Linked DNA regions of Homo sapiens. The protein of the gene in region 7 purifies or fractionates together with the protein of the main gene of each other region. This does not show direct contact. Each region holds a gene or a part of one and is shown on either strand. Other genes may lie near its edges.

The links.
Region 1: the proteins of ASNS (region 7) and PLPBP fractionate together in Homo sapiens (co-fractionation; one large-scale study listed by BioGRID). This does not show direct contact.
Region 2: the proteins of ASNS (region 7) and KYNU fractionate together in Homo sapiens (co-fractionation; one large-scale study listed by BioGRID). This does not show direct contact.
Region 3: the proteins of ASNS (region 7) and FAIM fractionate together in Homo sapiens (co-fractionation; one large-scale study listed by BioGRID). This does not show direct contact.
Region 4: the proteins of ASNS (region 7) and AACS fractionate together in Homo sapiens (co-fractionation; one large-scale study listed by BioGRID). This does not show direct contact.
Region 5: the proteins of ASNS (region 7) and TTC27 fractionate together in Homo sapiens (co-fractionation; one large-scale study listed by BioGRID). This does not show direct contact.
Region 6: the proteins of ASNS (region 7) and NBDY purify together in Homo sapiens (co-immunoprecipitation; one study listed by IntAct). This does not show direct contact.

The regions. Positions count from the first base shown.
Region 1 is NC_000008.11:37,765,645-37,770,284, forward strand, and holds part of PLPBP (pyridoxal phosphate homeostasis protein), read left to right. Parts: intron 1-66; coding exon 67-102; intron 103-635; coding exon 636-711; intron 712-837; coding exon of another isoform or gene 838-890; exon of another isoform or gene 891-2,134; intron 2,135-4,640. UniProt on the Homo sapiens protein: Pyridoxal 5'-phosphate (PLP)-binding protein, which may be involved in intracellular homeostatic regulation of pyridoxal 5'-phosphate (PLP), the active form of vitamin B6.
Region 2 is NC_000002.12:143,051,843-143,056,482, reverse strand, and holds the end of KYNU (kynureninase), read right to left. Parts: 3' UTR 650-4,640; downstream 1-649. UniProt on the Homo sapiens protein: Catalyzes the cleavage of L-kynurenine (L-Kyn) and L-3-hydroxykynurenine (L-3OHKyn) into anthranilic acid (AA) and 3-hydroxyanthranilic acid (3-OHAA), respectively. Has a preference for the L-3-hydroxy form. Also has cysteine-conjugate-beta-lyase activity.
Region 3 is NC_000003.12:138,614,721-138,619,360, reverse strand, and holds part of FAIM (fas apoptotic inhibitory molecule 1), read right to left. Parts: intron 1-4,640. UniProt on the Homo sapiens protein: Plays a role as an inducible effector molecule that mediates Fas resistance produced by surface Ig engagement in B cells.
Region 4 is NC_000012.12:125,140,455-125,144,285, forward strand, and holds the end of AACS (acetoacetyl-CoA synthetase), read left to right. Parts: exon of another isoform or gene 1-474; intron 475-1,637; coding exon 1,638-1,775; 3' UTR 1,776-2,862; downstream 2,863-3,831.
Region 5 is NC_000002.12:32,668,682-32,673,321, reverse strand, and holds part of TTC27 (tetratricopeptide repeat protein 27), read right to left. Parts: intron 1,051-4,640; coding exon 938-1,050; intron 1-937.
Region 6 is NC_000023.11:56,814,899-56,820,157, forward strand, and holds the end of NBDY (negative regulator of P-body association), read left to right. Parts: intron 1-2,421; 3' UTR 2,422-4,281; downstream 4,282-5,259. UniProt on the Homo sapiens protein: Promotes dispersal of P-body components and is likely to play a role in the mRNA decapping process.
Region 7 is NC_000007.14:97,858,662-97,863,301, forward strand, and holds part of ASNS (asparagine synthetase [glutamine-hydrolyzing]), read right to left. Parts: intron 738-4,640; coding exon 552-737; intron 295-551; coding exon 193-294; intron 1-192.

The DNA.
Region 1 (4,640 bases), on a different chromosome or scaffold from region 7:
TTCCTGAAGCCCTTTGGAAGCATCATGATTGCCAGGCTTCTGACTTGTTCTGTTTTGACCTTTTAGGTTCAGGAACTGCTAGAAAAAGCATCAAATCCCAAAGTAAGTAGATAGCTGAATTCTTTAATTTGTATCTAAATCTTGGCTCTTTAGTTGAAAATTAGACCCATCCTGGTGGTTGAGTTGTACAGCAGTTTTAGGGTGGTTGACTTTAGATTGGGCCAGGGATAGAAATGTCAGCTTCCTCCTTGAGCCCCAAGTAATTCTCAGCTAGATTTTTCTCTTTGTTCAGACTGTCGTTTTCTCATTGGTGGCTGTTTGGAAATGGTGGTTTCAGGAGCTTGCTGTAATCTTGGATCTTTTCAAGATTTGAAAGCTTAAATCAGTTCATCCTAGATGGGCAATATCTGAAAGATGGAGGGAATTGATGGGAACAAGGAAGGAAAACAGAACAGAAGCCTTAGATTTTTCTCTATCCTTTTACCTCATTAGGAGGCCGGGTGAAGATTGTGATAGTTTATTACATTTAAGGAACAGAGAGTGGATGTGAAAGGTGACAGGGAGTGCACGAGGCGTTTGAGCCAGCAAGGCCTCTATAAAATCTGAATTACACATGGTTACCTTTTTCCCCTCAGATTCTGTCTTTGTGTCCTGAGATCAAATGGCACTTCATTGGCCACCTACAGAAACAAAATGTCAACAAATTGATGGGTAAGATAAAATTAAATATGAAAACAAAATTGTTCTGTCATTGTATTGCTTCTACTACCCTTTGTGGAAGAGAGAGCAACTTTTAGAATAGCCCCAATTCACCATTTGTTTTTGGAATTTCTTTAGGAAAGTCTGAGTTCTTAATAAAAAGAGAAAACATCATGCCAAGAACAGAATGAATTCACCATTTTCTGGGTTATATATACTTGGAAACCTACCCAACCTCATGTTTATTATTATTTGGTGGTCTTTCAGAAAAATTATAAAGAATTGTAGCCCATAAATTTTTTTAACTAGCAAAAGAGACATTTCTGTTCTTTTTCCTTTAAATAAAAGGCTACAGTAAATAAAATACAATACAGTAAAGTAAGTATAGTAAAGTAAAATTAAGAATTATAGTAAAGTAGGCCAGGCGCGGTGGCTGACACCTATAATCCCAGCACCATGGGAGGCCGAGGCAGGCGGATCACCTGAGGTCAGGAGTTCAAGACCAGCCTGGCCAACATGGTGAAACCCCAACTCTATTAAAAATGCAAAAAAATAGCTGAGCGTGGTGGTGCATGCCTGTCAAGTCCCAGCTACACAGGAGGCTGACGCAGGAGAATCGCATGAACCCGGGAGGCAGAGGTTGCAGTGATCCAAGATCACGCCACTGCACTCCAGACTAGGTAACAGAGCAAGACTTCATCCCAAAAAAAAAAAAAAAAAAAAAAACAAGAATCATAGTAAAATAAAATTAAGAAAGACATGGAGATCTTGAGTAACTGAACTTATTTCCCTTAAGGTATAAAAATTTAAATAACCTGTATATATTTTGTAACAGCTTTATTAGGGAGGTAAGTGACTTACAATACATTGCACATATTTAAAGTATAGAATTCGACGAGTTTTGATGTATGTTTGCACCTGTGAAACCATCACAACAAACAGTGAGCATATCTATCACCCCTAAAAGTTTCCTCCTGTCCCTTGGTAATCCCTCTCTTACCTGTCCCACTTCTCTTCCTCAAGAACCACTTACCTGCTTTTGTCACTGTTAATGTACGTGAGTTTACATTTTTTAGAGTTTTATCCAAAGGGAATCATGAAGTATGTACTCTTTTTTGTCTGACTTCTTTCATTCAGTGTAGTGATTCATCATGTTCATACCTGTATCAAAGGTTCAATTCTTTTTATCATTCAGTAGTATTCCATTGTATAAGTATATTACAATTTGTTTATCCATTCACCTGTTGATGAATGTTGGGTTGCTTCTGATTTTTGACTGTTGCAAATAAGTTGCTATGAATATTTGTGTACGAGCCTTTGTATGGATATATTTCCCTTTTTCTTGGAATAAATATATAGGAATAGAATGGCTGAATCACAAGTTAAGTGTTATGTTTAACTTTTTATAACTGCAATAAAACAAACATAAAATTTACTGTCTTGATCTTTTATTTACTTTTTTTTTTTTTTTTTTTTTTTTGAGATGGAGTCTCGCTCTGTCGCCCAAGCTGGAGTGCAGTGGCGTGATCCCGGCTCACTGCAACCTCCACCGCCCGAGTTCAAGCGATTCTCCTGCCTCAGCCTTCCGAGTAGCTAGGATTACAGGCACATGCCACCACACCTGGCTAATTTTTTACGTTTTTAGTAGAGACAAGGTTTCATCATATTGGCCAGGCTGGTCTCGAACTCCTGACCTTGTGATCCACCCGCCTCAGCCTCCGAAAGTGCTAGGATTGCAGGCATGAGCCACCATGCCCGGCCTATTGATTTTCAAATGTTAAACCAACCCTGCACTCCTAGGATAAATCCTACTTGAAGGCTGGGTCTCTATTAATCTTATTATATGTCATATAAACAAAATAACTGTGTTATGGGATTTATAACTATGTAAAAGCAAAATGCATGACAACAATAACAGAAGGGGATAAACAGAAGTACACTATTGTAAAGTTCTTAAACTGTGTGAAGTAGTGTAACACACCTTGAAGGTGGACTGTTGTAAGTTAAACCCCAAAGCAACCAATAAAATAACACAATAAAGAGTTATAGCTTATAAGTCAACAAAGGAGATATATTGGACTCAAAAAATGTGAAATGGTATCTCCTTACAGTTTTGATTTTCTTTTTTTTTTTTTTTTTTTTTTTTTGAGACGGATTCTCACTCTGTTGCCCGGGCTGGAGTGCAGTGGTGCGATCTCAGCTTTCTGCAACCTCCGCTTCCCAGGTTCAAGCAATTCTTCTGCCTCAGCCTCCCGAGTAGCTGGGACTACAGGCGCCCACCACCACGCCCAGCTAATGTTTTTGTATTTTTAGTAGAGATGCGGTTTCACCATCTTGGCTAGGCTGGTCTCAAACTCCAGACCTCATGATCCGCCTGCCTTGGCCTCCCAAAGTGCTGGGATTACAGGCGTGAGCCACCACGCCCGGCGGTTTTGATTTTCATTAATAACGAATGATGTTGAGCATCTCTTCATGGGCTTATTGGCCATTTTTATGTCTTCTTTGGAAAAATGTCTAGTCAGTCCTCTGCATGTTTTTTAAATTGAGTTGTCTTTTCATTATTGAGTTGTAAATTCCAGCTAGATTAAATAATCTAACTTGAAAATAAAAGCTATAAAAGTATTAGAATAAAATGCAGGAAAATATTTTTATTTTCTTGGGCTTTTCTAAGCAAGACATAAAATCTGGAAACCATAAAAAAAACAACTAGGCCAGGCACAGTGGCTCACACCTGTAAATCTAGCACTTTGGGAGGCCAAGGCAGGTGGATCACTTGAGCCCAAGAGTTTAAGACCAGCCTGGGTAACATGGCAAAACCCTGTCTCCACTAAAAATACAAAAAATTAGCTGGGCGTAGTGGTGTGTGTCTGTGGTCCCAGCTACCTGGGAGGCTGAGGTAGGACGATCACCTGAGTCCAAAAGGTTAAGCCTGCAGTGAGCTGTGATTGTGCCACTGCACTCCAGCCTGGATGACAGAGGAGACCCTATCTAATAATAATAATAATATTAATAATAATAAATTTTAAAAGAACAACTAGCAGATTTGATCACACAAAAATTAAAGCTTTCTGCATGTCAAAGCAAAAGGGAGGCACAGAGTGGAAGAAAAATAATATTTTTGAAGAGGGAAGAGATTCATATCCAGAATACATAAAGAGCTACAAATCTTTTTGTTTATAGGGAAAAAAAATAGGCAAAAACTGGGGCAATTTATAAGGGGTAAAAATACAAAAGGCCAGTAATCAAATGAAAAATATTCATCCTCAGAGAAATACAAAATCACTAATCAGATTTGTAAAAAATCAAAAAGACTGCTAAGATCCAGTGTTTTGAGGGAGTGAGTAAATGAGTACTCCTTCGTCTTACCAGGAGATTCTAAAACCGTAGAGTCTTGGAAAAACATAAAGATTCCACCAAAAAACTATTATAACTGAAAAACAACTTCAGTAACATTGCAGGATACAAAATAAATATACAAAAATCAGTAGCATTTCTATATGCCAACAGTGAATGATCTGGAAAAGAAATCAGGAAAGTAATCCCATTTACAATAGCTACAAATGAAATACCTAAGAATAAACTTCACCAAAGAAGTGAAAGATTTCTGCAATGAAAACTGTAAAACACTGATGCAAGAATTTGAAGAGGACATGAAAAAATGGAAAGATATTCCATGCTCATGAATTGGAAAAATCAGTATTGTCAAAATGTCCTTATTGCCCAAAGCAATCTACAGATCCAGTGCAGTCCCTATCAGAATACTAGTGACATTCTTCACAGAAATAGAAAAACACAGTCCTGAAATTTATATGGAACCACAAAAGACCCATAATAGCCAAAGCCATCCTGAGCAAAAAACAAAGCTGGAGGAATCACATTACCTGACTTCAAATTATACTGTAGAGCTATAGTAACCAAAACTAGCATAAAAACAGACACAT
Region 2 (4,640 bases), on a different chromosome or scaffold from region 7:
TAACTAACTTGGTTTTGATTTTACAGGCTCATAGGCAGAAGGATCTTGCCTTGTCTCAGATGACACTTTGGACTTGGACTTTTGAGTTCATGCTGGAACAAGTTAAGACTTTGGGGGACAGTTGCGAAGGCATGATTTTGAAAAGTGAAGACCAGAGATTTGGTCAGGTGTGGAATAATATGGTTTGTCTTTGTGTCCCCATTCAAATCTTATCTTGAATTATAATACCCACATGTCAAGGGAGAGGCCTAGTGGAAAGTGATTGGATCATGGAGATGATTTCCCCCATGCTGTTCTTGTGATAGTGAGTTCTCACAAGAGCTGAAGGTTTTGTAGGGTCTCTTCTCCCTTTACTTTTCCTTTCTTCTCTCTCCTGCCACCTTGTGAAGAAGGCGCCTGCTTCACCTTCTGCCATAATTGTAAGTTTCCTGAGGCCTCCCCAGCCATGCAGAACTGTGAGTCAATTAAATCTCTTTTGTTTATAAATTACCCAGTCTCAGGTATTTTTCATAGCAGTGTGAGAATGGACTAATACAAAGGCAGAAGGGATTGTTTCCAACATCAGAATATATGGTGAAAAATATTACATACAAGGTGTTATTGAAGTCATAAATTTTGAGGCAGGTGACATAAATTCTCACCGAAGTCATCACTGTTCATTGTTTTTATTAAATTTTCCAACATTAACAAAAATAGAGAGAATTCCACATATTATTCACCCAGTTTTCAAATTTATCAAGATTTTTTCATACTATTTTTTTCTTCTTCCCTCCTACCTCTCCTCTCCTCTCCTCCCTTTCCTTCCTTCCTTCCTTCCTTCCTTCCTTCCTTCCTTCCTTCCTTCCTTCCTGTGGTAAGATGACTAATGACCCTCAAAGATGTCCATGTCCTAATCCTTAGAGGTATGAATATTTTACATTATATGGCAAAGAGGAATTGTGATTGTAGATGGAATTAGGTCACTAATCAATTGACCTTAACATAGGGAGATAATCCTTGATTGTCCAGTTGGCCTCAATAGACTCAAAAAGGCTCTTAAAAGTGGAAGACAGAAGAAAAGGAATAGTTAGAGAAAGATGTAAGGATGAAAGAATAGGTAGAGAGATGAAACGTTGCTGTCTTTAAAGATGGACCTTAAGCCAAGGATTGTGGGAAGCCTCTAGAATCTAAAAAAAGTAAGAAAACAGAGTTCCCCCTGGAACCTCCAGAAAGAAACGTCACCCTGCCAAGGCCTTGCTTTTGATCTCATGAGACCCATGTTGAACTTCTAACCTATGGAACTGTAAGATAATAAATGTGGGTTATTTTCAGTCACTATGTTTTTTGGTCATTTGTTATAGCAGCCATAGAAGAATACTACACCTTTTTAGTTTGTCATCGTTCTTTTTTATAATTTTGCAGAGGAATTTTAAGGCAAATTCCAGATTTTGTATTATTTCACTCCTATGTACTTGGTATATATATATAGAAATATGAATAGCTTCTTACTCCCACAATACTATTATCACAGCTAACAAATTAGATAAAAATACATTTCTCATTCAAATTTCCTCAATTCTCACAACAATGTCTTTTTATAGTTGGTCTTTGAATGAAGATCCCAACCAAGTCCACACATTGCATTTGTTTATTATATCTCTTCAGTCTCATAATTCAGGGTAGTGCCTTCTCCCTACCTGCCTCCTATTGTATTCATGCCACTGACATGTTGAATAAATCCAATCAGCAGCTATGTTGCATGCCCTGTATTTGACTCTTTATGGTATCATTTAATTGCCCCTCTATTCTTCATACTTTTTATAAACTGGAAGGTAGCTTTAGGGCTATTTTGATTGGACTTGGTTTCTTATTTCCTGACTGTACTGCAGAGTGGTGCAGTCTACTTCATATTCATCACATTGAGCACATAATTACATGTTGTTCCATTTTTAGTGGTATCAGTATTGATCAATGAAGTTCATAACAACGTGATGCCTCCACTATATATTAATAGTTTTCACTAACTTTTCCTTTAATGTTTTATCTTTGCCTGAATCTGTTATCCTAAGTATTGAAAAATGATTATATTCGATTTTCTTCATCAAATATTATCTGTAATTTCCTATAAAGAATAATTTTCCAAAGTAGAGTATTTATAATATGCTCTATATTATATATGAGAAAAGAGAGAATTGTGAATTGCCTTTATAGCTCTATTATGTAAAAAAAGTAATAGAAAGATAAAGTGAAACTTGGGGAAATACTTATACATAGTAAGAGGGAATAAACTGAAGAATTGGAGATATTGTAGAATCTAAAATTTAAAAAGAAAATTTATAAAAATTAAATGAAAAATTTCAAAATACTGAAACAATGTATCCAATTGGTGGTTGTAAGGACATAGGGAAAAAACCAGTGTTATTTCTACTCTCTCACTCAAGAATCAACATAAAATGCTTTACCTCTGGTCACCAAAATGTGTATAGGGATTTCTCCTCACCAGCAAGCAATTCTGCATTGAACGCAAGCTAGGTATCCTCTAATTGAATTCAATTCTGACATGATATACCTGGAGATATCATTCAACCCCACAGGTTAAGGGCTCAGTTCCACAAGACTGCCCCCACAACCCCACTTCCAACGCTAATGGCAAGTCCCTGGCTTTTTACCTACTAGCTATAAATTAGTATATTAATCCGTTTTCCCACTGCTGATAAAGACATTCCCAAGATTGGGCAATTTACAAAAGAAAGAGGTTTAATGGACTCACAGTTCCACATGGCCAGGGAGGCCTCATAATCATGGCAGAGGTGAAAGGCACATCGCACATGATGGCAGACAAGAGAAGAACTTGGGCAGGGAAACTCCCCTTTATAAAACCATCAGATCTCATGAGACTTACTCACCATCATGAGAACAGCACAGAAAAGACCTGCCCTCATGATTCAATTACCTCCCACCGGGTACCTCTCCAAACACATAGAAATTCAAGATGAGATTTGACTGCGGACAAAGTCAAACCATATCATTCTGCCCCTGGCCCCTCTTAAATGTTCTCACATTTCAAAACCAATCATGTCTTCGCAACAGTCACCCAAAGTCTTAACTCATTTCAGCATTAACTCAAAAGTCCGCAGTCCAAAGTCTCATCAGAGACAAAGCTTAAAGATGGACCTTAAGCCAAGGATTGTGGGAAGCCTCTAGAATCCAGAAAAGGTAAGAAAACAGAGTTCTCCCTGGAGCCTCCAGAAAGAAACATCGCCCTTCCACCTATGGGCCTGTAAAATCAAAAGCAAGTTAGTTACTTCCTAGATACAATGGGGATACAGGCATTGGGTAAATACAGCCACTCCAAATGGGAGGCATTGGCCAAAACGAAGGGGCTACAGGCCCCATGAAAGTCTGAAATCCAGTGGGGCAGTCAAATCTTAAAGCTCCAAAATGATCTCCTTTGACTCCATGTCTCACATCCAGGTCACACTGATGCAAGAGGTGGTCTCCCACAGCCTTGAGCAGGTCCGCCCCTGTGGCTTTGCAGGGTATAGCCCCCTCCTGGCTGCTTTAACAGGCTGGAATTGTCTGCAGCTTTTCCAGGTGCGTGGTGGATTTACCATCCTGAGTTCTGGAGGACAGTGGCCCTCTTCTCAAAGCTCCACTAGGTGGTGCCTCAGTAGGGACTCTGTATGGGGGCTCCCACCATACTTTTCCCTTCTTCACTGCCCTAGCAGAGGTTCTCCATGAGGGCCTTGCCCCTGCAGCAAACTTCTGCCTGGGCATCCAGGCATTTCCATACATCCTCTGAAATCTTGGTGTAAGTTCCCAAACCTCAGTTCTTGACTTCTGTGAACCCAGGCTCAACACCATATGGAAGCTGCCAAGACTTGGGGCTTCCACCCTCTGAAGCCACAGCCCAAGCTGTACCTTGGCCCCTTTTAGTCATGGATGGAGCTGCTGGGACACAGGGCACCAAGTCCCTAGACTGCACACAGCAGAGGGACCCTGTGACCAGCCCACGAAGCCATTTTTCCTTCTAAAGCTCCTGGTCTGTGATGGGAGGGGCTGCCACAAAGGTCTCTGACATGCCCTGGAGACATTTTCCTCATTGTCTTAGTGATTAACATTCAGCTTCTTGTTACTTATGTAAATGTCTGCAGCCAGCTTAAATTTCTCCTCAGAAAATTGGTTTTCCTTTTCTACTGCATTGTCAGGCTGAAAATTTTCTGAACTTTTATGCTGTATTTCCCTTTTAAAACTGAATGCCTTTAATAGCAACCAAGTCACCTCTTGAATGCTTTGCTGCATAAAAATTTCTTCCTCCAGATACCCTAAATAATCTGTCTCAAGTTTAATGTCCCACAAATCTCTAGGGCAGGGGCAAAATGCCTCCAGTCTCTTTGCTTTATGTCTAAAACATAACAAGAGTCACCTTTGCTCCAGTTCCCAAGAAGTTCCTTATCTTTGTCTGAGACCACCTCAGCCTGGACTTCATTGTTCATATTATTATCAGCATTTTGGTTAAAGCCATTCAACAAGTCTCTAGGGAGTTCCAAATTTCCCACACTTTCCTGTCTTCTTATGAGCCCTCCAAACCATTCCAACCTCTGCCTGTTACCCAGTTTAAAGTTGCTTCCACATATTCGGGTACCTTTTCAGCAGTGCCC
Region 3 (4,640 bases), on a different chromosome or scaffold from region 7:
TTTCAAGTTGAAGCGTAAGAAGCCCCAAGGCTATGAGTCAGGGAATACATCAAACTCCAGGATAAACACAATGTATCTTCTGGGAGCATCAATGTTAAAGTGGCAACTAATTTAAAATGTAATCTTTATTTTAGAAGGCTACACTATGGTGGAACATAACTTTCAAAATCTGTTTAGATAACTTCAAAGAACTAATGAGTTTGCAAGAAGCAGACAGGGATATGCTGGTCTGCTCTCAAAGAGTGAACTTAATTTATCCCCTTACTTAAGCCCATTTAATTTACTAGTGCCAATGATGAATCCACAAAAGTTATGTGCCTTGCTCATGTAACTGGCAGGATCCAACCCAGAACTAGAGCCCAGTACTGTACTATGCAATGAACTAAACAGTAACTGGGCTGCAGTGTTAATTAAGCTGTACTAAAATCAGAAGTGCACATAAATTCACATGCATAGGAAACCCTCACATTTGAAGATTTGGGATTAACAGTTTCACTCCTGCCAAAGTATCCTAAATTCAACTATTTTTTGCTTCCAAGATCTATCCTAGTTTAGCCCTTTCCTTAATTAGTGCCTGTTTCCTACAGATGCTCAAGAATGCTCTCTCCTGGTTAAAAATGGGAGACTGCTAACCCTTTCTGTCTGGAAACAGCCAGAAGTCACAAATTATTAAAAAGTTTTTTGTTTGTTTTTGAGACAAAGCCTCACTCTGTCCCCCAAGCTGGAGTGCAGTGGCATGATCTTGGCTCACTGCAACTTCTGCCTCCTGGGTTCAGGCAATTCTCATGTCTCAGCCTCTTGAGTAGCTGGGACTACAACTGCATGCCACCACATCCGGCTAATTTTTTGTATTTTTAGTAGAGATGGGGTTTTGCCATGTTGGTCAGGCTGGTCTCGAACTCCTGGTCTCAAGTGATCCACCTGCCTCGGCCTCCCAAAGTGCTGGGATTACAGGCATGAGCCACCACATACCCAGCCAAAAAGATATTAAAGAAGAAATTAGCACTCATAAAAGCAATCCAACGGGCCAGAAAAGCCAAGGATTTTAGAATAAAAACTAGATAAATATTTGTACCTAAAATAAATCTCTCTTTTATAAAATTAGCACCACACAAATTTGTGAACTTTTCTACTCTTAAGGATTATCCCCTATGAAACCAGAGGGTATCCTACAACAATAAAAACAAAAAGAATACATAGCAATATAATAAGCCAGCCAGGCATGGTGGCATGCACCTGTAGTCCCAGCTACTGGGGGAGGCTAAGGTGGGAGGATCGCTTGAGCCTAGGAGTTAGAAGCTGCAGTGAGTGGCTGCAGTGATCATGCCACCGCACTCCAGCCTGGATGACAGAGTGAGACCCTGTCTCAAAACAGGTATCTATATATATACTATATATAATATATAGTTACTATATACACTATATATACTAAATATACTATATATAATATAGTATATATAGTATCTATATCTATATGATCTAATTAGATATCTAATTAGATAATATAGATAGATAATATATAGATATATACTATATATAAATAGTATCTATGTCCAAAATAATAATATATATTATATATTATATATAGTAGATACTATATACATACATATATATATACACACACACGTATATACACAATGTAATTATATGTACTCCAGCCTGGGTGACAGAGTGAGACCCTGTCTCAAAACATATATATATATATTATATATATAGATATGATATATAGATCTATTATAGATAGACAGATAGTATAAGATAGTATAATTACATGTACTCCAGCCTGGGTGACAGATATAGATAGACAGATAGGTAGATAGGTAGATAGAGAGAGATATATATAGATATACATATCTGTTTTGAGACAGGGTCTCACTCTGTTGCCCAGTCTGGAGTACATATAAATACTATATATATATTTATATACATATTATATTTATTATATATACATATTATATATAATATATACATATTATACATACATATAATATAAAAAATAAGCCAAACAGCATAATATAAACTTTGATAAGGCATCCTTTGTAAATCAGAATGTATTTAGGGGTGCTATTCAAGTTTTGCTCTTCAATTTTCAGAGACTCTAGAAAGTTCAGTAATGTAGGTATTCAAACCTAAAACAATTGCTCTGTTTTCTATTATAAGGAATTCCAAATACTACTAAATCACACTAAGATACAACATCTTAATTATAATACCTTTTCATGGAGAAGTATAAAAGGCAATACCACCAATTATAAGAAAGATTAGAAATCATGATCACATTAAAACATTTTTTCTTCTCTAAACTATGAACAATCATTCAGGCATTCAACAATTATTTAAGGACTACTTAAAAAATAGCAATTTTTAATTCTCCAATAATTAAAAGTGTACATGACAGGAGAGGATTATAAACAAAGATAAGAGTAAGTACTGAAGCAATTATCTGGCAAATTTGAAGCATTCTAATTCTACTTATATAACTATATATCAAAATTGATGTTTCTTCTTAAACCAAGTAACAAATCAATATAAAATTTGTTACTCTCTTTGCCAGTTTTTCTCTGATTAAATAAAATGTTGTTTTAATACAAAGTAATATTTCAATTTTCTTGTTCATGCTATCCATTATTTTAAGCAAAACACTAAAAAAATCTTTTTATAAATGGTTAATAATTATAAAATACTGTTATAATTACTCCTTGGAGTGTGCATGGTGGCTCATCCCTGTAATCCCCGCACTTTGAGAGGCTGAGACAGGAGAATCATTTGAAGCCAGGAACTCGAGACCAGCCTGGTCAACAGAGTAACACCAAAAAAAATTAGCTGGGTGTGGTGGCACGTGCCTATAGTCCCAGCTACATGGGAGGAGGGAGGATCGCTCGATTCTAGGGGTTTGAGACTGCAGTGAGCCATGACCATGCCACTGCACTCTAACCTGGCCAACAGAGCAAGACCCTGTTCCAAAAGCAAAAAACAACAACAACAAAACAAACGAAATTATTCTTTGGAACATTAAAAGTATATTCAGCTTATAAAAGGCTGAAATACTTCAAATTTTGTACCATTTTAAAAGGCAGAGATTAACTTTAAAAACTGCTTTCTATGCAAGGATTAAAGTGACCAGTATCTTATAACAACAGCCTTAACCAAAATATGAGAGAGTCATACAATTTTCAGCACTGGAAAACAAAAAACAATAAAATCACCTGGTCTAGCCTCTCTCCTTCATTACGGGGAAATCAGTAACACATATCCCTCCAAGTGCCATCTCCACTGCCAGTCCTGGGTTCTTATTACCTATCCAACTTTCTAACAAAGCTGTAGAGGGTGCCAATAATGCACACAGAGCAAAGAAAACTTTTCAAATGATCTTACCACAAACAATAATTCCCATCAACAAATCCCATCTAATGTTTAAGAAAAATGTCCAAAATCAACTCTGCCTCCTGCTTTTGGGCTTCTCTATCACCTATCCCAGCAGTTTCACTAGTCTTATGACCTCTGTCAGTTTACACATTCCATTCCAATTTCACCACTTTAAAATTTAATTGAAATTGCTCTTCTGGCTCAAAAGCAGGAGAGCACACATAGAAAACACTCTTAATAGCCACAAATGCAACAGGTTAACAGACTGACATCTGTTTTTTGGCCATTCATATCAGGGAAAATCATTAAAAACCACTAGTCAACTCATCAAATGCACGTAAAAATATGCCCACTAGTGAGTCTTTAGGGAAACATGAAATAAAATAGAGATTTAGGTTAGAGGTCTGAAAGGAAGTAAACATGAATAATTATTCTAAAAGGCACTAAAGCACAGAGATCAATGTTTACTTAAAACAGACTTTAAGATACTTTGGCCCATCAGCTGATTTTTCATTTTGAGAATATCCTCACACAAAAGTCAACTTACTTCTTCGTAACTGGTGATTCTCTGGATGGTCTATACAAAGTAATATCAGAATGAGCAAATGTAATCCATTAACTCAACAAATAGTTAAATGCCCACCAAATGTTCTGAAAGCACTCCAAAGTCAAATACAGATGGTCCCCGGCTTATAATGGTTTGACTTAATGATTTTCCGACTTTAAGATGGTGCAAAAGAGATACGTGTTTGGTAGGAACCATACTTTGAGTACCCATACAACCATTCACTTTCACTACAGTACAAAAAATTACAGGAGACAGCCAAGACTTCATTGTAACATAGGCTTTGTGTTAGATGATTTTGCCCAAATGTGGGCTAAGGTAAGTATTCTGAGGACACTTAAGGTAGGCAAGGCTAAGACATGATGTTTGATAGGTTAGGTGTACTAAATCCATTTTCAACTTATAATATTTTCAACTTGCAATGGGTTTATTGGGATATAACCCCATCACAAGTCAAGAAGCATCTGTACATGTTTTTGTTTTTGTTTTGAGACAGGGTCTTGTTCTGCTGCCCAGGCTGGAGTGCAATGGTATATTCAATGCTCACTGCAGCCTCAACCTCCTGGGCCCAAAGGATCCTCCCACCTTAGCCTCCAAAGTAGCTGGGACTACAGGTACACACCACCACACCCGGCTCATTTTTGTATTTATGGTAGATATGAGGTTTCACCATGTTACCTAGGCTGGTCTTGAATTTGTGGGCTCAAGT
Region 4 (3,831 bases), on a different chromosome or scaffold from region 7:
ACAGAGCAGGCGAGACGTTTGCATCTCACAGCGGGAGGGCCGGCGACATCACATGAAGTGACAGGCAGGCCCTTGGAAGCCGGTGCTTAGATCCTTAATTAGTTCACACGTCGACTGAATTTTCAAGTGAATGAATTTTAATTACATCTCAGGTTAAAAAAAAAAAAAGGCGCCAGTGATCGAGGACTCGTCACTGGGCTCTGTTGCTCCTGAAGTTTCCTAGCCCACAACACACCAACACTGCCAAGGGCTCTTCTGGATTCAAGGTGAAACACATGTGCCATAAATCTTGGAGCTCTGAATGTTTGGAAAGGGCCCGACTGTGAGAAGAAGTAACACACCGTCCCGTGCAGATGGCTGGCTCTGAGGAGGAGTTCATGGGAGCTTGGGGACACTCTTGCCTCTAGTTCTAGGAAGCTGGGCCACTTCTGAAGTAATGGCAATATCAATAAAGTAATGGTCTTTATCATAGAATAACGTGATAAAATATATAGAGAAGTAAAAAAGTATAAATAAAAGTAAAATCATCATAAAACATAGTAGCTAGGCACTTCTGAAGCTGTGTGTGCACTGATTCATTCACCCAGTGACTCACAGCCTTATAGCCTAGGTGCTGGCACCCCTACTTTCATTCGAGGAAGTGAACTCAGGTTCAGGAATTTACCCAGCATCCCCCAGATGGGGTGGCAGGAGCCACATCTTCCCTGAAAACTTTCTTGCCCAGGGTGTCTGCTGGGATTTAGGAATGGTCTATGCCTGCATTTTTATCCTGGTCAGGCTGACCCTGAACCCTGAGAGATACTCTTTTTTATATTCCCATCTGGAATATGCACTGCCGGGGTCAGTGGGGTGTCTGGAGGGCCCTCTCGAGGCCAGCTTGGATGTGACACGTGTCGTGGGTCCCAACGGGGCCCAGTAGAGTGTGCAGCGTTAGAAAAATGAACATGCTCGGCTGGGCGCGGTGGCTCACGCCTGTGATCCTAGCACTTTGGGAGGCCAAGATGGGTGGATCATGAGGTCAGGAGATCAAGACCATCCTGGCTAACATGAGACCATCCTGGTGAAACCCCATCTCTACTAAAAATACAAAAAATTAGCTGGGCGTGGTGGCAGGTGCCTATGGTCCCAGCTACTCAGGAGGCTGAGGTAGGAGAATGGTGTGAACCTGGGAGGGGGAGCTTGCAGTAAGCGGAGATTGCACCACTGCACTCCAGCCTGGGTGACAGAGTGCGACTCTGTCTCAAAAAAAAAAAAAAGAAAAAAAAAGAAAAAAAGAAAAATGAACATGCTCATGGTGACCTCTGGGCAACTTTGAAATAGCCTCAGTTTCTCAACAGCCGTGCCAGGGGGCGGGGGTGGGGTGTGGAGAGTGTTAGAGTTGAGTTTCAGCACCAGTCCTTGAAAGTGCCTTTCAGAAGAACAGGTTTTATCCCCCAAACAGAGAGACAGTGGTCAGTTCACCGTACTTCGGTGCACGTTTGCAGACCTGGTGGGAAGAGGGGCATCTTAGAGCCGAGACCCATTCACTCTTGGCACTCCAGGTGGAGCTGGGCCTTTGGGGCCTGGATATATCCAGGGCTGCGGATTTTCCCCCCTTCAGGTTTAAATGTTCCTGTTTTTCTACCTTTCCCTCGCAGTATACGCTCAACGGCAAGAAAGTGGAAGTTGCCGTCAAACAGATCATCGCTGGAAAAGCCGTGGAGCAAGGAGGTGCTTTCTCGAACCCCGAGACCCTGGATCTGTACCGGGACATCCCTGAGCTGCAGGGCTTCTGAGTCAGACTGGCTGGCGTGTCACTCAGCCGCACCCGTGTGCACTGTAACTTTTGTGTGCTCAAGAAATTATACAGAAACCTACAGCTGTTGTAAAAGGATGCTCGCACCAAGTGTTCTGTAGGCTTGGGGAGGGATCGTTTCTCTGTTTTGTTAAATCTGGTGGGTACCTGGATCTTCCACACGAGTGGGATTCTGGCCTTCAGAGACCAGGAGGGAGTGTCTGGGCCGCAGGTGTGGCACTGTGGTGAGAGTGTGTGTCTTTGCACACACAGTGCAGCGGGAACGGTGGGGCTGGCTGGTGCTGAAGACAGACACACTCCTGAGCCAAGGTCTTGTCTTCAACCTCCCCGTCCCGTTGTCCCATTTTGCTCTGTGAAGGTGCAAATCCCTTTCTTCCCTTCCCATCTCAGGCTCTCCTGTTTTCCCTCAGGGTCCAGTATGCCTTTGAGCTTTAGCTGTTAGAAAGGAACCCCCGTGACTTGACACAGCTTTCACAGCTGGCTGCTAGGACCGGCGGGCTGGGTGTTCACGTGTGTCTGTGTCATGGATGCAATGCAGGCCCTGGAGGACTGTGCGTCACCCGTCAACCAGAGCGTGCCTCCGGGCCAGCTTCCCTCCAAGGAATGAGTGGATTTCATACAGGATCTCTTTATTGCACAGACTGAATGGCTTTACATGTTTCTAATGTGAATTAGGCATGTGAAGCAGTGGGTGTCCACCCGTGTCCCTCATGGGTGAGCCCTCCAGCTGTGAGCCCAGGCAGTGTGGTCACCGAGTGAGGACCCTCCTCACCAGGAACCGCATCCCTGTGCTGCCTCCACCTGAGAGTTGCTAGGGGGTTCTTGTCGAGATCATGTCATCAGCACCCCTAAGTCAAGTCACGGGTTTCCATAGCCAGGCAGTTGGTATGTACAATTCAGTTCAGCGTATGAACTTGTATCTCTAATCTGATGTCCATTTTTATATTTTTTGAAACTGAGCACAATGAAATCCTTTCTTGAATCATTTTCCTTTTGGATTATAAAAATATGGGGGAAAGTGCTATGATGAATTTTATGCAATAAATGTATACATGTGTGCACATGCACCCATGCTGTGTGTGCAGTGTGCTGGTGTGTTTTCTCTGGAGGGGGGACCGCATCTGCGTGTGTGAGGCTGGTGGTGCTTGTGCGCCCGCCAACAGCTGTGCCCTGGAGTTGTGTGGTTCGAATTGTTGGGGGCACTTCCCAGGGCCCTGGTACTTACCCACATTCCCTTGTGACCAACGAGGAGTGCTGCTCAGTGTGAAGCCAGCACCCTGGGCCCCCTCCACCCTGAGATCCCCCAACACCCAGCGCCAGCCAGGTTTCTGGCTCCTTTCTTGTCATCGCAAGAGCTGCATGTCACTTGGGTTGTGTGTGGCTACATGCCACGGGATCCAGGCTTGGCCCAGCAGCGTTTATGGCTCTCACGTCACAGGAAGTTGGAGGCAGTCCATTCTCCCGGGGCCGGGCAGCAACTCCACAGTGCAGCAGTCCTGGCTCCTGTCTGCTGCACTCTGCTGTCCTCAGGATGTGGCAGTCATCATCTTGGCCCTGCCTGGCTGCCCCACCTCTAGTCTTTCATCCGTGCTGTAGGCAGGAAGAAGGTGGGAGTGAGAAGGGGGCTGGGTAAAGGCAAAAAGCTGCATCTCTGGAGTGTGTCCCTTTTTATCTGCAAAATGATGGCTTTTCTGGAAAGCCGGCAGCATCTGCTGGGCCTCACCAGCCAGCCTGGGGACACGCAGCCGCCTTCGCTGCAAGGGCATCCGGGGGTCTGAGTATTTCAAAGAGGACCTGTTCCCCTTTTTTGTGAGTTTCCAACAGCTGCTGTAACATTTCCACAAAGGCAGTGGCTTAACACAGCCCCAGTTTATTACAGTCCTGGAGGTCAGAAGTCTGCTGTGGGTCTCACTGGGCTGAAATCAGGGTGACAGCAGGGCTGTGTTCCTTCAGGAATCTGCAGGGGAGAATCCATTTCCTTGCCTTCTCCCGCTTCTAGAGGCCACTGTGTTTCTTGTCTGGTGCCCTGTTGTCTT
Region 5 (4,640 bases), on a different chromosome or scaffold from region 7:
GCCCGTGGGGCGGAGGTTGCAATGAGCCAAGATTGTGCCATTGCACTCCAGCCTAGGCAACAATAGCAAAACTCCATCTTAGGAAAAAAAAAAAAATGCATAAGGTGAATCCAACTATTAAAAAAAAAAAATCAGACAAACTCAAATTGAAGGAAAGTCTAAAAGTAATGGACTTGTAAATTTCAAGTGTCAAGATCATGCAAGTCAAGCAAAAATGAGGAACTATTCCAGACTGACAAAGACTAAAGAGACAAGAAAACTAAATGTAATACATATATTCTAGACTGGATCTTTTCTAAAAGAGAGTATCTGAACAACTAGCAAAATTTGAATGGGGTCTGAGAATTAAATGATAGCAAAGTACCAACATTAATTTTCTGATTTTGATAGCTGTATTGTGACTATGTACAAAAATAACATTATTTGTTGGAAATATACACTAAATTATTCAGGAATGATACAGCATCATCTTGGAAACTTATTCTTAGAAGTTATATGTATTGTCCTGCCCTTAAACATTTTTCACAAATTTGAAATTATTTCTAATCAGAAAAAAAAGTTAAAACTATTTCCACCATAGATAAGGTTCCACAGTATTAAAAAATAATCCTATCCTTTGAAATGTAAATATCCTCAAATCTCAAAATAGTCATTCTCATTTGTCTTTAATATTTTATTAATAATCTATTCCTAGCTAAAGCTAACCAAAGAAATTGTGCTTATAAAGGAAACAGAAGAATAGATATATCAACTCATTGGAGATTTGTAATATCTAACCCTTTAATTGGTTCTCCAAGTATTTCCTCTGATCTTCATAAGCACTACAAAATTCCCTATTCATCCAGAACTCTTGGAACCTCCTTGAATAAAGATTCTCCACACATAAGAGAATCAATATGCAAAGTGTTCAAAGCAGCCAAGTCAGTCATTAACTCACCAGATTCCAAGAATAATAGCGATCTCTTCAGCACACAGATCCGGCATCTGGAACTGTTCACAATCTGCTAACTTTATGTCATTCAGAATGGTGTCATCATTGAGCTCAAGATTCTAGTAGAATACAAAAGAAAATACTTAGACCAAAAATTAAATTTTATTCATTCACCAGAATGGCATGTAATAGATTGCTAGAAAGGATAAAGTTAACTTACCTGTTTGACATATGGTCAATAGGCTATTTCTTGTGAAACACATATTTGGAAACAATTTACCTTCCAGAAATGAAAGATGTGCCATCTATACCTCAAGAATGCACTAACAATGACAATAATAGGGAATAACAGCTATCACTGATTGAGCCAAGTATGCAAAAGCCCCTCTGCAGATAATTTTATATACATTTTTCAAATTCTTCCTCACAACAATCATAGACAATAGGCATTTCTATCCTTATTTACTGATGAAAAAACAAAGAATCAGATACTTGAAGCTCATCCAAGATCACACTCAAAGTATGTGATAGCATCAGGATTCAAAACTGGATCTTTCTATTCTGCCTCTAAATTCTAATCAAAAACATCAACTTCCCAACTCTGTGTCTCAGCAATATAGTGTGATCAGTTGAGAAATTTCTCACAAATAGCTTGTTATCAATGATGGAAATGCCAAACTGTGACAAGCTCATTCTAAAATTTATATGGAAATGCAAATGATCGACAATAACCAAAACAATTTTTAAAAGAATAAAATATGAGGAAGTACTTGATTTCAAGAATTACTATAAAGCCCAGACAGTATAGTACTGGCATAAAGACAGACATATAAAGTGAATGGAATAGAATACAGTTCAAAATTTTAGACCCATGCATATATGATGGATTGATTTTCAATATAGCTACCTAGGTGTTTCAACAGGTAAAGCCTTTCAATAAATGAAATTAGAGAACTTTGGGAGGCCAAGGTGGGAGGAAGCTTGAGGCCAGGAGTTTGAGATCAGCCTGAGTAACACAGCAAGACCCTGTCTCTCCAAAAAATAAGTAAGTGAATGAATGATGTCAGAACAACTGGATATCCATTTGGAAAAAAAAATGACCCTTCACGTTTATCTCAATCATACACAAAAATTAAATCAAAATTAATCACAGACCTTAATATACAAGCTAAAGCTAAAAAAACTTCTAGAAGAAAACATTAAAAAAAACTTTGTAACCCTGAGATGGAAAGGCAGTCAGTCCTTAATTAGGATACAAAAAGTATGAATTATAAGAGAAAAACTTCATAAATTAGACTTCATCAAATTAAAAACTTCTGTTCTCTGAAAACATTGTTAAGACAAAAAGTCAAGCTCCAGATCCAAATATACTGACAAAACATATATCTGAAAAGGGACTTGCATCCAGAATATGGAGAACTCTTAGAACTCAATAAGAAGACAAACAACTCAAATTAAAAATGGGCAAGAGAGGCCAGGCATGGTGGCTCACGCCTGTAATACCAGCACTTTAGGAGGCCAAGGTGGGTGGATCACTTGAGGTCAGGAGTTCGAGACCAGCCTGGCAAACATGGCAAAAACCCCGTCTCTACCAAAAATACAAAAATTAGCCAGGCATGGTGGCGTATACCTGTACTCCCAGCTACTCGGGAGGCTGAGGCAGGAGAATCACTTGAACCCGGGAGGTGGAGGTTGCAGTAAGCTGAGATCATGCCACTGCACTCCAGCCTGGGCAATAGAGCGAGATTCCATTTCAAAAATAAAAAAAGAAGAGAAAAAAAAAAACTTACGTTCACACAAAGACTTACATACATATTTTCTAGGCAGGTTTATTAGTAATACCTGCTAGAAATAACTTAAATGTCCACCAACAGTTCATATTGGTATTTCAACATGGATGAATCTTGAAACCATTAAGCCAGACCAAAAGATTATACACTGTATGATTCCATTTATTGGAAATTCTAGAAAAGACAGATCTAATCTATGACAGCAACTGACTGACTGCAAAGAACTATGGCGGCACTCTTTGGAGAAACTTTTTTTCATTGTGGTGGTGGTGACACGCGTCTAATTGTTAAATCTCAACAAAGTGTAATTTAAAATCGGTATATTTTATATAAATTATTCCTCAATAATCTTGGGTTAAATTTTTTTCTAATTCAACAACAACAAAAAAAGAGGACTTTAGGAGCCAAATGAAGCTAGACAGAAGCCAGGTGCGGTGGCTCATGCCTGTAATCCCAGCACTTTGAGAGGCTGAGGCGGGCGGATCACCCGACGTCAGAAGTTCGAGACCAGCCTGGCCAGCATGGTGAAGCCTCGTCTCTACTAAAAATACAACAACTATCCGGGCGTGGTGGCATGTGGCTGTAGTCTCAGCTACTCGGAGGCTAAGGCAGGCTACAGAATGAGACACCATCTCAAAAAAAATAAAAAATAAAAAAATTAAAATACATATTTTCACATTGTAACATTTCTTTCTTTTCTTTTTTTTTTTTTTTTTTGAGAAAGTCTCACTTAGTCACCTAGGCTGGAGTGCAGTAGCATGATCTCGGCTCACTGCAACCTCCACCTCCTGGGTTCAGGCGATTCTCCTGCCTCAGCCTCCCAAGTAGCTGGAATTACAGGCACACACCACCACGCCCGGATAATCTTTTCTATTTTTAGCAGAGATGGGGTTTCGGCATGTTGGCCAGGTTGGTCTCGAACTCCTGACCTCAAGTGATCCTCCCACCTCGGCCTCCCAAAGTGCTGGGACTACAGGCGTGAGCCACCACACCGGGCCATGTTGTAACATTTCCAATCAGGATATGTTTTGTAATCACTATAAATGGTATAGTAGTGTTCCTTTCCTTTTCCTGAAAAATGGTTATTAAACAGATGGTGTATATTACAATCTAATAATGTGTTTAACACAAGGTAATATGATATATAACCAACTTAACAATTCTCTTCCACCCATTAGAATAAAGCTATGTTTCTATCTAATCCATACCTACAGCATACAACTTGTACTCTCCATCTTCAAGTAGTAATTAACAAAGACCATAAGATTATCTGAATGTATTTTATTTCACATACAAAAGATTAAATTCTGGCCGGTGCAGTGGCTCATGCCTATAATCCCAACAGTTTTGGGAGGCTGAGGAAAGTGGATGGCTTGAGCCCAGAAGTTCGAGACCAGCCTGGGCAACACGGTGAAACCCCATCTCTACCAAAAATACAAAAATTAGCCAGTCTCATAACCTGGTCTCTAAATAGATAAACAGGTAAAATTTATTTTTTATTTATTGATTTATTTTTTTTTTTGAGATGGAGTCTCACTCTGTCGCCCAGCCTGGAGTGCAGTGGCACGATCTCAGCTCACTGCAAGCTCCGCCTCCCGGGTTCACGCCATTCTCCTGCCACAGACTCCGGAGTAGCTGGGACTACAGGCGCCTGCCACCACTCCCAGCTAATTCTTTGTATTTTTAGTAGAGACGGGGTTTCACTGTGTTAGCCAGGATGGTCTCCATCTCCTGACCTCATGATCCGTCCACCTCGGCCTCCCAAAGTGCTGGGATTACAGGCGTGAGCCACCACGCCCAGCCAAAATTTTTAAAATAAAATAATTCTGAAAAAATTTCTGATAGCCACATGTAATATATTAAAAATGTTAACCACATTAACCCTGTAACATGTATTACATGGTGAATCCCAGCACTTT
Region 6 (5,259 bases), on a different chromosome or scaffold from region 7:
TTATGTGTCATTAATAGCTAATAGAGAATATATTTTTGGAATATATATTTAACCTTTACTTCATTCTATAATGCTTTTTACATTTCTGTCATATCTTATACACAATTTTTACTACACTGAGAAATTTATTCTTAAAGTAGTGATAAATCAACTCATTTTAATATAAATTCATGATTTTATAGACTATATGACTTGGCTTAAATAGATCTTTCTGAGAAATCAGGAAAATTTGAAAGCCATCAATAAATTATTTACTCTTTGATAATGAAAATATTTTAATAAAAATGCTAAAAACACTTAATTTTAAACCAAAATACAGTATAGTATCTGGTAAAGAGATTTAAACCTATGTTGCAAAGATGATTAAAATGATTCATACGCAATGACCCTTTATAGAGATTCATTTAAATTAAAATTTATTTTTCTACATCAAAATGAGGAGATCATCATGACTAAGAAATTTTGGATTACTAAATTCTTAAAAAATTGTCCACTTTTAAAATTCTATTAAGGTACAATAAATCAAACATATACTATGTTTTCTTTATCATTTATAGAAATTTAAAGTATGATAACAGGTATTTCTTGTTGAGGTGATTAGCTTGTCTCTCATACATTGGTGTTTGGAGAATTGTTTACTGAAACATTTGAAATGGTAATCCACAAATTGTTTAACTTTTTTATTATACCATCTGAGAATATGTTTGCATATTTGTGAAAACAATTGGAAACTGTCTCAGTTATGTTCATTTTGAGAATTACTATGTTTTGGTGGACACATTTGCTGGAATTTTGTGCAGATATTTTTAAAATATTTAAGTTTATGTGGTTACTATGAGATATTATTAAATAAATAAAACATGTTCGGAGTAATGTGTATAATACAAACTCATTTTTTGTAACAACAAACAGAAAGAGTTACATGTTGGTAAGTATATGTGTCTTTGATTGGTTATGGAAAAAATTATTAGGCATTTATTCCATACTTTTAACATCTTTTAACCTCCACAGATTTAGAATTGTTTTTCTGGAAGAAATTGTTAATCTTCTCTTTTATACATTTCATGTTGTTTTCCTCATTTTAATGCCTTCGTATTATATTTCTAAATATAATTTTCTTTTATAAAACATGCAAATTTTATACGAAGAAAAACAGCATAAGTAAACTTAAAGACTATTTATATACAATGTGGTTCCATTTAAAAGATAGATAATGGATGCCATTAATTCATAGAATATATAATACATTTCTTTATGTTAATACAGAAACAAAGCCTGATAGAAATATAGTCAAAGAACAGGCAATTCATAGGAGACAAAAATATATGGCCAATAATAATAATAAATATAGTTGACTTTAATATTAGGTCATCATATTTGCCACAATCAAAAAAGTCTCCAGAATTCTCAGTTTTAGAAAGGATTTGGTTAAATATCTACTGTCTATAAAATTGTACGTTTCTAAAGTATTTTATCTCTATCGTAATTTTAATGTTTGTAAGTTTTGACTTGTGTTTTATTTGTAGAATATATGGAAATAATTCTACATATCAATAAATTGGCTTGCTTGTAGTAAAAATGTTGCAAGCATATTAAATATCTTTCAACAGAATTTGAACATCTTTCAACAGTTAAAATTATACTGTAACACGATGCAATATTTTGAAGCCATTGAAATATTGAGACTGATCTATTTTTATATTAAAAATTATTAAGACATTTATAAGTGAATAAAAACAAATTGCCGAAGTGTATGCTAGGATGATCTAATTTATATTATAAACTCCAAATCTAAATTATTATATTATTATAAATACTATATATGTGTACATTTAAATAGAAATAAAAAGGTCTAGACAGAATTGATAACTATGTTTTCTTCTGTAAATAGGAGAAAGACTGAGGAATGGTAAAAGTTTAGCAGTAAGAAGAATTATGTCTATGTTGTTTGAATTATATACAGTTAGATTGTATTCATGTATTTATTCATGTATTATTTGTGTAAATAAATAAATAAATATAAAATTTCCAAGGAATATAGGAGTTTGTCAAGGGGCTATGAGGGAACAATGAGGCTGATTGATTAGTTTTGGAAGCCTAATAAAACAAGAGTAATAGCGGTAGACATCCCTGTACTTTTTGGGGGAGAAATATGCCTAAGATAATAGAAACATCTGGTCCACCTAACAGATAAATTATTTTGCATTCAAATACATTAGATACCAAAAAGATGCAGGTTATTGACATTGTATGCCTTTGATTTAATATTTATTAAGCACTCATCTAATAATTTTGCATTCTCTTTAACTTGCTTAATAGGGAAATTGGGGTGTTTTCTGCTCAACAGACATATCTGACCTGTATGATAATGGAATTTCTCATTATAAGTCAATAAACTTTTGTTCTTTCTGTATCTTTCAGTCTTATGATGTAATCAGCGCGATTTCACTTCCTGAATTTCGATGAATTCTAAGACATGGGCAAGATCGGGTTGTAAGACCTCTGAGATTTAAGGCCATGCCCTGGATCATGGTGAACTTACCAAAGCAAACAATGCCTGTGAGATGGTCCTGCAGCAGCCAACCAGTGAACTCTTTTGGTGACATCCTGTTCTTGTTGTATAACTTTATATTCCTATAAATCCATTAAGGCCCCAATAAAGTTTGTCTCTAAGCGCTGTGTTAGATCTATATGACTACATCTAGTAAATTGTGAATTTTAAGTAAATATTTTATAAGAACTCCTATGTAAAGCATTACTAAAATTAGTGTTGAAATATGACCTTCTTCCTACATTTATTCATTTATTTATGTCTATTTATTCATTTATTTTAGTGAAAAATATAAGGAAAGTAGAGGAAGGTTAAATCCAAAAAAGAATTGTTTCCAGTACACTTTCTTTAATTTGCTGTCAGTTTTTGCATGGAATCTACATCTTTTTATGCTAATCCTCATCCTAGTATTTTACATCTTAACTATTTTTTTCTGACTGAAATGGTTGATGTGCTTGTTTTTTGTAATTTTCTACTTTCCTTCTAAAATGCTTAGTATTGAACAAATAGAATATCCTAATTAAAAACAGTAATAAATATTATGGTGAAAAAATACAAGTAAAATGGGAAAACATTAGATAGCAGCTTTCAATATTTCATATAGTTCATAAATGTTTCAGGAATTACAAGGTTATAGAAAAAAATTTATAGACTATAATAATTTCCAGGGATATAAAAAAATAAAGCTTCTACCTTTGAATTGTAATAATAAAAGATAAACAGACTTGAAAGCATATATTATATCTGAAAATGTCAGATAAACTTGGCTTATAAATTAAAATATAAAATAATAATACAATTTGTTCAAATAAGTAATTAAAGCTTACATTGTAAAATGAATATTTAGAGAGATTGTGAAACCTGAGTATTTTACCCAATCCTCTGAAATTAGTCCCTAGCATCAGAATTAAAGAATCTGAAAAATCACAAATGGAGGTATGGTGACATTTATGTATATTCTAGAGTTATGTTATGCACACTTAATAAATTATAGACAGTTATTTTAAAGATTGTATAATATTACTAATCACACATTAGAGTTTTAAAACTTCTGAGCCAGGCTGAACATCACAAACAGTAAACACAGACTTCTTTAAAAGGACATCTGGTGAAAGGCATTTTATGCATCAGAAGGCACAGTATTATAAAGATGACAACACTCTTCAAAATAATCAAACTATTCAATGCAACCCTTATCAAAATTAAGGTTGCCTACTTTGAAGAAATTTATAACCTGATTCTAAAGTTCATATGAAAATGTAATGGACCCAGAATAGCCAAAACAATCTTGAAGTATACAAAGTTTGAAGAGTCACATTTCCAAATTTTAAAACTTATTACAAAGCTACAATAAACAAGTCTATGTGGTACTGGCATAGGATATAAATATTGATCAATGAAATAGAATCCAAAGTCCAGACATAAGCCCTCACAAAAGTTAATTTGCAGCCAATTAACTTCTGAGAAGGAGGCAAGACAAAAGGGGAAATAACTATTTTCAATAAATGGTACTGGGACAACTTGGTATCTACATGCAAAAAAAAAACAAAAAAACAAAAAACTTCCACCCCTACCTCATGCAAAATACAAAAATTAACTCAAAATAGGCCAAAGACTCAAATATAAGGGTTACACTATAAAACTCTTGGGAGGAAATATAGAATAAATTTTTGTGACCTTGAATTAAGTATTAGATTTTTAATTCTTACACCAAAGCACAAGTTAATAAAGGAAAAAAAAGATAAACTGGACATAATTAAAATTGAAAAAAAATTTGCTTCAGTGAACACAGTCAAGAAATTTGAAAGACAGCCACAGTGCAAGATTATTTTTGCAAATAATATGTCTCATAAATGACTTGTATCTAAAATATATAAGACCAGGCATGGTGGCTCATCCTGTAATCCCAGCACTTTGGGAGGCTGAGGCAGGGGGATCACTTGAGGTCAGGAGTTTGACACCAGCCTGGCCAACATGATGAAACCCCATCTTTACTAAAAATACACACACAAAAAAAATTAGCAGGGTGTGGTGGTGTATGCCTGTAATCTTAGCTACTCAGGAGGCTGAGGTGGGAGGATAGCTTGAACCTGGGAGGCAGAGGTTGCAGTGAGCCAAAATTGCACCAATGCACACTCCAGCCTAAGCAACAGGGCAAGACGCCATCTCAAAAAATAAAACAAAATAATAAAATAAAATAAACAGTAATTACCGCTAAATAATAAAACAAACAATAAACCAATTTTATAACGAAAGGATCTGAATAGATTCTTCTGTAAAGAAGACATACAAATCACAAATTACACATGAGAAGATGCTCAACACTATTAGTCATCAGGGAAATGCAAATCAAAATCACAAAGAGACAGCAATTTATACCCAGTAGGATACTTATTATTATTATTATTTTAAATAGCAAAATAATAAATGTTAGAATGTGGGAAAACAGGAACATGCGGCATTGTTGCTGGTAATGATAAATGTGCAGCCACTGGGCAAACAATTTTGTGGTTCCTCTCTAAGTTAAAAATAATGGCTGGGCGTGGTGGCTCACACCTGTAATCCCAGCACTTTGGGAGGCTGAGGTGGATGGATCACCTGAGGTCAGGAATTCGAGACTAGCCTGACCAACATGGTGAAACCCCATCTCTACTAAAAAATATAAAAAATTAGCCCAGCTACTCAGGAGGCTGACGCAGGAGAATCCC
Region 7 (4,640 bases):
CTATAGTGTAACTCAAGTTGGAGTATGACTATGACTATTAAATACAGCTTATAAAAAATCATTTCCATCCTATAATGAAGGAAAGAGTAAATCATACAGTAAATATTTTATAGTAAAAACCAAAGGGATGGCTACAAATCATTTCAATTAAACACACATGAAATATAATTAGGTTTTTTTAATTGACTTCACCTGATAAAAGGCAGCCAATCCTTCTGTCTGTCATCAAACGTTTCTTTACAGCATTATTAAAAAGGATCCTGAGGTTGTTCTTCACAGTTTCTATCTCAAAACCTATAAACACAGCAGTAAATCAAACAGCTCCAGAAAATCTTGGGCTGGATTAGTTATTGAAATGAAATACACAATCATCAACATCTATCATGATGGTATTTACTCAATGGTGGAGTGTGCCAAATCTTAATGTGTTCCCTCCAAACAAAATAGGAAGTAGGTCTTGAAACTAAAATCATTCAAATGATGGGAGAATACAACTTAAAATTTTTTTCCCTTGGAGAAGGATGGGGAATAGGTGGGTGGGTGTCTGCTACCTGGAAAGAGTTTCTCCACATTGTCATAGAGGGCGTGCAGGGGTACATCCCGACAGTGATGATATTTAACCATTTCCACGGATGCAACTTTGCCATTTGGCTTTAAATCCAAAACTTCATAGTGTCCAGGAAGAAAAGGCTCCACTTTTAAAAAGGGAGTCGCGGAGTGCTTCAATGTAACAAGACCTAGAAATTCACAATGATACCTTTATTCAAATTAGGTAACCCTTCCCAATAACTTTCACGATTAGTTAACATCATCTACATTCCTATTTTCCCTTTTTAATACAAACACATACCCATTAAATAAGCAAAATAGGAAAAAAAATTTTCTATTTTCCTAAGCCCTACCATCTACTTACCTGAGAGACAATAATGGCACAGGGATATACTGCCAAATTACACTAACTTTTCGTAATTCAAAGAAATAGAAAAATCTCCAGTGTTCAATTTCTTCTTCTTAGATTTCTAATCAAGAAAACCTATTTTCTATACTAAAGCAAATACACAAAAGGAAAAGACACACTTATGAAGCAAAGGGATGAACTGGAGTCCTAATGTTATGATAGGCTGGGAGTCATTTATTTGTCATCACTGAGGTATTTTCAGAACACAGCCATGGTTCCCAGACCTTTAACAAGTACAATGATCCACTTTTACCTACTTTAAAGTCAGATAAGAAGACATCTATCCCTTAACTAGTTGTTATACACTATATGTGAATAAAACCATATAACTTAAATTTCCTCAATAAATTCTCACAGACAGTACAGTACCCAACCTCTCATCACCATGATCTTTGATACAAACATCAATGTTTTATTGTAGATCGTAATGGACTATCTACATGGAATACTCGTGATTTACAATTTGAGATTGTCTACCCAGCCAGTAACCTGTGTAGCACTGAATTCAAATACCAGAAAAAGGACCCAGATTCCCTCACCAGCCAGCAGAGCTCAAGTGAGCTACACAACCCGGATAGGGAATGGGGAGTAATTAAAAGGTTTTAAGCAGGCAATACTATAATCAGATGAGATTTTGACAGGTTATTCTAAAAGCACTGAGAAAAGAAAATTGTTGCAGTATTCCAGATGAGATAATTTGGTCTGGAAAAGGACAGTGTCAAGGATATAGAAAAGAACAATTAAGGAATTTCAGAGGGTAAGTTCCATATCAAGTGATCATCAGGCTCAAAGAAGGCCCAGGGGAGCAGGAGGCTGCTTTTCCCCAGTGTTCTCTTTACCAGGCTTTCCCAGCAGTCCTGGCAACTGACATATATATATGCTTGTTCTTTGCCATCTGATCACACTAGAAATGCCTGAAAATAAGCCAGTTCCAGTATTAGTACAAACACTGTGACTAGTGTCCTAAGGACCCCTTTGATTGATCTCATTATCCCTGCTTCAGCCAATATTAAATCTGAAAATTAAGTGAGAAAGAATTTAAAGAATGGCAAAAAGAGGCAGGGAGAGAGATATTAGGATGTTACTGCTGCACAGGTAAGGGATAAAAGATAAATGTCTTCCTCAAGTTTACCATCAAAAAGTGCTATGCATGATTTGCAAGTATTTTCTTCCAACTTGTGGGCCGTCTTTTCACTTTCTTGATGGTGTCCTTTGATGTGCAAAAATGTTTAATTTTGATGAAGTCCAATTCATTGATTTTTATTATTGTTGCTGGTCTCATATTTAAGAAAGCTTTGCCAAATCCAGGGTCATGACAATTTACTTCTATGTTTGCTTCTCGGGATTTTATAGTTTTAGCCCTTACATTTAAGTGGATTAGTTCAAAACTGATTCATTTGATCCTTTTTTTTTTTTTTTTTGAGATGAGTCTCGCTCTGTCACTCAGGCTGGAGTGCAGTTGCGCGATCTCGGCTTACCGCAAGCTCCGTCTCCCGGGTTCACGCCATTCTCCTGCCTCAGCCTCCTGAGTAGCTGGGACTACAGGCGCCCGCCACCACGCCCGGCTAATTTTTAGTAGAGACGGGGTTTCACTGTGTTAGCCAGGATGGTCTCGATCTCCTGACCTCGTGATCCACCCGCCTCGGCCTCCCAAAGTGCTGGGATTACAGGCATAAGCCATCGCGCCTGGCCTGATCCATTTTTCTGTATCCATAATTTTTGTATACGATGTTGGGTAAAGATTCAACTCCAAGTTTTGCATATGGTTACATATCTGGTTGCCCCTGTGCCAGTTTTCAAACTTCTTTCTCCACTGAATAATCTTGGCACCCTTGTCAAAAATAAGTTGATCATATATGTATGGGTTCATTTCTGACTCTCAATTCTATCCCACTAGTCTATACATCTATCCTTCTGTCAGTATTATATTGTCCTTATTACCATTGTCTTGTAGTAAGTTTTAAAATCAGTTAATATGAGGTCTCCTACTTTGTTCTTCATTTTCAAAAGATTGTTTTGGCTATTCTTAGTCTCTTGCAATTCCATATGAATTTGAGAGTCAGCTTGTAGATTTCACAAAGAACTCATCTGGGATTCTGATAGGGATCAAGTTAAATCTGTAAATCAGTTTAGGGAGGACTGCCATCTTAACAATGTTAAGCCTTCAAATCATGATCATGGGATACTTTTCCATTTATTTAGATCTCCTCTCATTTCTTTCAACAACATTTTATAGTTTTCAGAGTACAAGTTTTACACTTCTTAAATTTATTTCTAAGTATTTTATTCTTTTTGATGCTATTATAAATGAAGTTGCTTTCTTAATTTCATTTTGATTGCTCATTTTAAGTATGTAGTATTCAGTTAAAGTGTGTCAAATACCATTGATTTTTGTATATTCATCTTGTATCCTGCAACCCTGATGAACAGAAGGGATTTGTATCTAGAATACATAAGGAACTATTACAATTCAGTAATAAAAAGACAAAATAACTCAATTAGAAATGGGTAATTCAAGAATGGATAAACAAATTGCATTGCATGCAAACAAATGGAATATTATTCAGCAAGCACACCAACATGGCACATGTATACATATGTAACAAACCTGCACGTTATGCACATGTACCCTAGAACTTAAAGTATAATAATAATAATAATAAATGAGCTATCAAGCCATGAAAAAACACAGAAGAACTATAAATGTATACTGCTAGGTGAAAGAAGCCAGTCTGAAAAAGCTACATACTATATGATTACAACTATTATACGACATTCTGGGAAAGGCAAAGTGAGAGAGAAAGCAAAAAGATCAGTAATGACTGGGGGGTTAGGAGGAAGAGGACGGGAGGAAAGAATAAGTGGAGCACAGGAGATTTTTAGGGCAATGAAACTGTTCTACATAATACTGTAATGGTGGGTACATGGCATTAAACATTTGTCAAATCCAAAAATCTATAAAACACAAAGAGTGAACCCTTATGTAAACTATGAACTTCAGTTAATATATAAGTATCAGTTCATCAAATCTAATAAATGTAGCACAGTAATGCAAGATGTTAAGAGTGGGGAAAACTGGGCAGGGGCACTGTAGGGGGAGCATATGTGAACTCTCTGCACTTTCCTCTCAATTTTTTCTAAAACTGCTCAAAAAAAAAAATAAAGTCTATTATGTTTTTAAAATAAAATGATCCCTAACAGGAAAAAAAAATGGCAAAGGATCTGAACAAATATTTCTCCAAAGAAGATATACAAATGGCCAATAAGCATAAGATAAGATGCTGGACATCACTGTCAACAGGAAAATACAAATCAAAATCACAATGAGATACCACTTCACATACACTAGAATGGCTAGAATTAAAGTCACACACTGTTTGTGAAGATGTGGAGAAACAGAAATTTTAATACACTGCTGGAGTGAATAAAAAATGATGCAGCCATTTCAAAAATTAGTCTGGCAGTTCTTCAACTGAACATAGTTATCATGTGTCCCAGCAATTCTACTCCTAGATATACACCCAAGGGAAATGTCCACACAAAAACTTGTACACCAATGTTTATAGCAGCATTATTCATAATAGCCAAAAGGGGTAAATAATGTCCTAAATGTCCATCAACTGACAAGCGAATAAACAAAATGCAGTGTATCCATGTAATGGAATATCATTTGGCCATAAGA